Regions from separate parts of the Homo sapiens genome. Here region 2 is reported to be linked to region 1. Evidence: microRNA targets listed by miRTarBase, many of them from high-throughput screens and not tested one by one. Region 1 holds a microRNA gene; the other region holds the end of a gene's coding sequence.
Evidence for each region. The annotated mature microRNA hsa-miR-6872-3p reads CCCAUGCCUCCUGCCGCGGUC and lies in region 1 at 1,380-1,400, shown strand. An mRNA with a match to its seed (bases 2 to 7 or 8) in the 3' UTR can be bound and repressed. Matches are read on the target gene's strand: a 7mer-m8 pairs with bases 2 to 8, a 7mer-A1 pairs with bases 2 to 7 and ends in A, and an 8mer does both.

Region 2: miRTarBase lists CD36 as a target of hsa-miR-6872-3p. The part of its 3' UTR that is shown has no 7-base or 8-base seed match.

The regions. Positions count from the first base shown.
Region 1 is chr3:50,271,896-50,275,305 of GRCh38, forward strand. MIR6872 (microRNA 6872) reads left to right here and starts at 1,341; the gene lies at 1,341-1,402. SEMA3B (semaphorin 3B) reads left to right here. Exons shown (of 17, transcript NM_001290060.2): 7 at 1,403-1,548; 8 at 1,640-1,751; 9 at 1,864-1,933; 10 at 2,018-2,162; 11 at 2,468-2,687; 12 at 2,948-3,039; 13 at 3,117-3,158; 14 at 3,407-3,410. RefSeq lists enhancers at 1,280-1,479, 1,458-1,981.
Region 2 is chr7:80,673,662-80,677,071 of GRCh38, forward strand. It overlaps CD36 (CD36 molecule (CD36 blood group)), which reads left to right. Exons shown (of 15, transcript NM_001001548.3): 14 at 322-486; 15 at 2,723-3,410. The coding sequence ends at 486. Among named protein-coding and RNA genes, the nearest start is that of CD36, 37 kb to the left of the region's middle.

The sequences.
Region 1 (3,410 bases):
GGATGCAAGAACAAGCAAAGGAATAGACTTGCAGAGCTAGCAATGAAAAGGGGGCCTGGACTGTCAGGGGCCAGAGTCATTTATTCTAAGAGTCATGGGGGCTGGGCACAATGGCTTGCACCTGTAATCCCAGCACTTTGGGAGGCTGAGGCAGACAGATTGCTTGAAGACAGGAGTTTCATACCAGCCTGGGCTACAAAGCAAGACAAAAAATAAAATAAAATTAGCTGGGGGCAGTGGCATGCACACACCTGTAGTCCTGGCTAGTCAGGAGGCTGAGATGGAAGGATCACTTGAGCCCAGGAGTTGGAGGCTGCAGTGAGCCATGATGCTGCCACTGCAGGACAGAGCAGACCCTGTCTCTAAATCAAATAAAAATTAAATAAGGGCTATGGGCTGGTGGGCACAGTGGCTCACACCTGTAATCTCAGCACTTTGGGAGGCGGAGGCAGGCAAATCGCTTGAGGCCAGGAGTTTGAGACTAGCCTGGCCAACATGGTGAAACCCTGTCTCTACTAAAAAATACAAAAATTGGCCGGGTGCAGTGGTGTGCACCTGTAATCCCAGCACTTTGGGAGGCTGAGGCGGGCGGATCACCTGAGTTCAGGCATTTGAGACCAGCCTGGCCAACATGGTGTAACCCCGTCTCTACTAAATATACAAAAATTAGTCCGGCATGATGGTGTGCATCTGTAATCCCAGCTACTCAGGAGGCTGAGGCAGGAGAATCGCTTGAACCTAGGAGGCGGAGGTTGCAGTGAATGGAGACTGTGCCACTGCATTCCAGCCTGGGCAATAGAGCGAGACTTCGTCTCAAAAAAAAAAAAAAAAGCCAGGTGTGGTGGTAGGCTCTGACTGTAATCTCAGCTACTTGGGAGGCTGAGGTTGCAGTGAGCCGAGATCGAGCACTCCAGCCTGGGCGACAGAGCGAGACTGTCTCAAAAAATAAATAAATAAACAAATAATAATAATAATAATAATAATAAAGAGCAATGGGACCCAGCAGAAGGATTTGAAGCAGGAGTGGGGAGCATCTGGTTATGCTAGAGAGGAAGATTCATGAGTGAAGGTGAAACCAGATTACCTCATCTCCCTCCTACCCCAGCCTAAGGTGCTGGGCGACGTGTGGGGCGAGATCGGAGGCTAGCCGGGCTTCACGCCTGCGCCCCCAGGTAGCCACGGTCTCTGCTGCCCCCTCGCGGCTGCTTCTTGCCTCGCAGGCCCTGATCCTTTGGATTCGGTCCGCGCAGAGCGCCAACTGGACATGGTGCTAGAGGTTGGGTGGTCAGACACTGTGATCCCGGGTGCTGTGCCCGCACTACGGGAAGGGGAAGCAGCGCGTGGGTCTCGCATCAGGAGGCAAGGCCAGGACCCGCTGACCCATGCCTCCTGCCGCGGTCAGAGCCCAAGTTTGTCAAGGTATTTTGGATCCCGGAGAGCGAGAACCCAGACGACGACAAAATCTACTTCTTCTTTCGTGAGACGGCGGTAGAGGCGGCGCCGGCACTGGGACGCCTGTCCGTGTCCCGCGTTGGCCAGATCTGCCGGGTGAGGAGTCCCTGGGCCACACCCGGCGACCCTGCCCCTACCCCTTTGCCTGCCCTGGTCTCGCCCTCATCCCCTTTGATCGTCCCGGCAGAACGACGTGGGCGGCCAGCGCAGCCTGGTCAACAAGTGGACGACGTTCCTGAAGGCGCGGCTGGTGTGCTCGGTGCCCGGCGTCGAGGGCGACACCCACTTCGATCAGCTCCGTGAGTGCGGGAGTGGGTATGGGGTTGGGGAGGGGGGCAGCGGCGCAGACTCCGGGAGCCCCCGCCGCAGCGGGGCTGTGCGCCCTACCCCAGCTAGGCCCCTTCCCCGCAGAGGATGTGTTTCTGTTGTCCTCGCGGGACCACCGGACCCCGCTGCTCTATGCCGTCTTCTCCACGTCCAGGTGAGGGGCAGGAGGTAGGGAGCGCCCGGGGCGGGCCGCTGGGCTCCACCCGGCCCCTCACCTCGCCCTGGTCTTCGCCTCCAGCAGCATCTTCCAGGGCTCTGCGGTGTGCGTGTACAGCATGAACGACGTGCGCCGGGCCTTCTTGGGACCCTTTGCACACAAGGAGGGGCCCATGCACCAGTGGGTGTCATACCAGGGTCGCGTCCCCTACCCGCGGCCAGGCATGGTTCGTAGCCCAGGGACTTCTGCTACAACCCACTTCAAAGCCTCAAGGGTTTGAGAACTTGGCCTGGGGTCTTCTTGGTGAATGTGGTTTCTTCCTTTAGTTATGGGTGGGAAAACGTTTCCATCATAAGACAAGGCTTGTTTCCCGCCTCTGACTTCCTAGGGCAAGGCTGATCTCCTCTCTAATTCTCAGGGCAGGGTTCTGTCCCCATCCCCCTCCATGTTCCCAGAGGCTGGGCATGGAGGGCTGCCTATCAAGCCCCCATATCTATATCCCTGCTGTGCCTCCCTTTCCCCCACCCCCAGTGCCCCAGCAAGACCTTTGGCACCTTCAGTTCCACCAAGGACTTCCCAGACGATGTCATCCAGTTTGCGCGGAACCACCCCCTCATGTACAACTCTGTCCTGCCCACTGGGGGGCGCCCTCTTTTCCTACAAGTTGGAGCCAATTACACCTTCACTCAAATTGCCGCGGACCGGGTTGCAGCCGCTGACGGACACTATGACGTCCTCTTCATTGGCACAGGTCAGGGTCCCTCCACAGCGACCCCCAGGCTCCCAGCCAGGCCCTGTGGGCTGCTGATGGAAGCTCTCCCTGTTCAGTCCCATCTCCACATCCTTTCCTGGGCTGTGTCTCCACCCTGTGGATGCTGCCCAACCCACACTCTTCCAGTCCACACTCTTCACAACCCAAACATGCTGAGGGTAGACGCCTCAAAGGCGAGGAGACACTAGCCCCAGCTGTCCGGGAGCACCAATGGTCATTACCCCTTCTCATCCCTGCAGACGTTGGCACGGTGCTGAAGGTGATCTCGGTCCCCAAGGGCAGTAGGCCCAGCGCAGAGGGGCTGCTCCTGGAGGAGCTGCACGTGTTTGAGGTGAGGCCTCACCCCCAGTCGCCCGGGACCCCCCCACCCCACTAAGCCCTGACCCCGTCGCCCCTCCTCCCTCTCAGGACTCGGCCGCTGTCACCAGCATGCAAATTTCTTCCAAGAGGGTGAGTGACCAGGATGGGGGTCGGGGTGGGATGGACTGAGCTTGTGCCTGGCGCGTCCCAAGCCTCTGGCCCCTTTTGGTAGTTTGCAGTCCCGGGTTTGAGTACAGGCTCTGGCTTTGTTAGACTGTGTGACCTGAGGCGTAAGACCTCAGTGTTCCCATCTGTCGAGTGGAAGAAGGGATCCCTGACCGATGGGAGGCAGGCGTGGGGTCGCCCTCGGTCAGCCCAGAGCCCCTCGTGCCCCCTAGCACC
Region 2 (3,410 bases), not on the chromosome of region 1:
CAAGGTATTTTTACTATAAATCCATGCATTGATAGCTATAAAAATAGGAAAAACATTGAATAAGTCTTTGGAGCAAATGAAACTGTTGACCCTTTGATAGTTCTGAAGAGCAAATGAATCCTAGTACATTGAAGAGTACCGTACTCTATCTGGCACTTAATTGCCTTTCTTGACTTGCAAAAGGAATTCCATTAACTTGCCTTATAGATACTGATGACTAACACCAATAGAGGTGTTAGAAAAAAGGGTGATAGGCAATTGAAGGGTTTATTTTGTTTTACTAACGTACCCAAATAATGTTGATTATTAACTTGATTACAGACTGGGACCATTGGTGATGAGAAGGCAAACATGTTCAGAAGTCAAGTAACTGGAAAAATAAACCTCCTTGGCCTGATAGAAATGATCTTACTCAGTGTTGGTGTGGTGATGTTTGTTGCTTTTATGATTTCATATTGTGCATGCAGATCGAAAACAATAAAATAAGTAAGTATGTACCAAAAAATATTGCTTCAATAATATTAGCTTATATATTACTTGTTTTCACTTTATCAAAGAGAAGTTACATATTAGGCCATATATATTTCTAGACATGTCTAGCCACTGATCATTTTTAAATATAGGTAAATAAACCTATAAATATTATCACGCAGATCACTAAAGTATATCTTTAATTCTGGGAGAAATGAGATAAAAGATGTACTTGTGACCATTGTAACAATAGCACAAATAAAGCACTTGTGCCAAAGTTGTCCAAAATTGACTGGTTCATTTCTCAATTATATAGCTAGTTATATATTATCTGATACTTAAAAATAATTGACTAGGAAATGGTTTCATAAGACCAGGATTGCTGCATGTAGACATGCTGGCCGTGCATTTTCCAAATCCAGAAAAGTCCTGAACAAAAATTTGAATATAATAGTATCAGGAAATAGGGGAAAATAGTGTTCAACATAGTAGAACCAAGTACTCAGAGTGGTGTACAAGAGTTTAGGCCTCTATGCTTTAGATATTAGTGTCCATGCACTCTTAAAGATGAATGAATGCCTGACCTTTCCTAAAGGAAAACCTTTTTTTAGTTATCACAGGTAACATTGGTGTTGCCTGTGGGGGAGAATTTTTTACTTTCTCCCTATTTTTCTTCAGCCCACCTCAAGGCAATGTAAATAAAAGCAGTATGTGTGTTATAATAACTTATTTAGTTGTTTACTGTGTGCCAGTACCATGCTAAAGAAAGATTCTTTATCTCACATGATCCCTAATACAATTTCATGATTTTCCAATAGCCTGGATTCATCAGCATCCATTCTATCTTCTAGAGATGTTCCATGAAATCATACATTTTAATTGTTTGTGACCAAAGCATAAATCAGTGAAAGTGGAATTTGGGGACCAATAATTTCCTTTTGTGAGATGGAGAGCTTGTGTTTGAAAAGGCAACCTAATTTTTGGTTCTAATCACTTCTACCACTATTTAGTCACCAAAAAGACAATAATTCTGCATCCAAACTATTTGGACAGAATGGCTTCAAAATGCTAGCCTAAAATGTTCACATTATAAAAAGTTAAATATTACCTTCAATACCTGTCAGTAGCCTACTGACAAATTATGACTAAACAAAGGTATTTGTATGACTATGTAATAGATCATCCGCTGAAAAGTAAAACAAAATAACAAAAAAACTTGTCCTAATGGGAAAGCATGCTTAATAAAAGGAAATGCAGAAGTTATAAACATGTTTTGTAAGTAAGTATTCAGAATTAAAATTATGTGATACATTTTTATGATTGCTTAATGATCCTTGGATGTCAGATTCCTTGGGTCTATTTATAGCTAAATTATAATGAAAAATTCAAGGCTTGCTGGAGCAACTTTGTCAACAAATATATTAGTTTTGCTTATATATTTGATTTTTATGTGGAAAAATTACTACCCTTTTTTACAAGCAGAGAATAAACTGTTGATTACTTGATTTACTAGATTTAGAAGAATCACAAAAGATATGTAGATTTTCTTAAGCAAAATTCAGCTCTTAATATCATAAAAATTATATCTTTGGGCAGATTTGTAAACAATAGGAACAAGTAAGAAGACAGGTATGTAAGAAGTAGCAAAGTGTAAGACGGTGGAGCTTTAATGTGTGGTTTTACTCAGGGGGTCACAAGAAAATAACCCAATGGTCCTTTTGAAAGTAGTACATACACCTTTAAATGGAACTTGGTCTGAAGGGTGTGGAAATGCTGGTCCAGGGCAGATGCACTTCAGCTACCGTTCCTTGCCTGGTGTGTGCTTGTCTTGAAGCACCCTTCTTATGTGCCTTTCTGGAATGGGAATGTGTTTTGCCCTATTGGTGAAGTCCGTTAGAGAACTTCTCTCTGCAGCTAGAGAAACTGAACTGATTAATAAAAAGTATGATATCTAAGATATACTGCCACTCTACAGGTAGTAAATGATTCTTCACATTTGTGCGCCAGCTACATCATGACCCTTGGTAATACCGACCAACAGGATGAAAATTGGATATGCTTTACTTTTACAAAGCACACCTTATCTTTTAGTTGAAGAAATGGTGGCACTATTTCTTTTTTTGCACTAAGCAACTGCACATTTCAAAAGGATTATTGAGATGTTATGAAAATCTCTACCTTGCACAAAAAAAAACCCAGCAGCTTTTAAAATTCATCATTTCCACAACTGAATTGATTTCCGTTTCTACAGACCTGGCTCAAGCACAAACCAATTTGTGTTGTTCTGATTCAATAATTGGTTTCTGGGTGGCCAATTCAGAAGAAGAGTGTACATGCTCAACAAATCCTAGGCCCTGCATTCCTGTCATCCTCATCCGGGGGAAACACCATCATCCCAGTAGCTGCCCTATTCAACTGCAACAGTCTCCAGGACCATCAGTATACTGCATTTCATGTGCACCAAATATTTTGAAAGACATTTATAAATAATTGGCTTATGACTCATATTTCTCTATGAATACCTTCATACAGCAGGTATAACTCTTTTCTTTATGGGCTTAAATATTTTGTCACTGATCCTGCAAATGGACATCATTTTAGCACACTAGCGGTTTATATTTTAAGGACCTTCATTCTCTGTTCTGCACCTCTTCTGGAAATTGAGTAAATTTTGCTTTTTTTTTTTTACTCAGTTGCAACTTACGCTTGGCATCTTCAGAATGCTTTTCTAGCATTAAGAGATGTAAATGATAAAGGAATTATTGTATGAAATATTACAAAGCGTAGACTATGCATTGTTATTCATTATAATATTTTTTGCTGTCATAATCGCCTCATAAAGACAGGTTTCAACCATTAAAATATGTTCTTCCTTAAATTCCTGTGCTTTTTCTAGTTCCTCTTGTGTCATAAAATGTTTATCCTAATTTTCTCTCTGA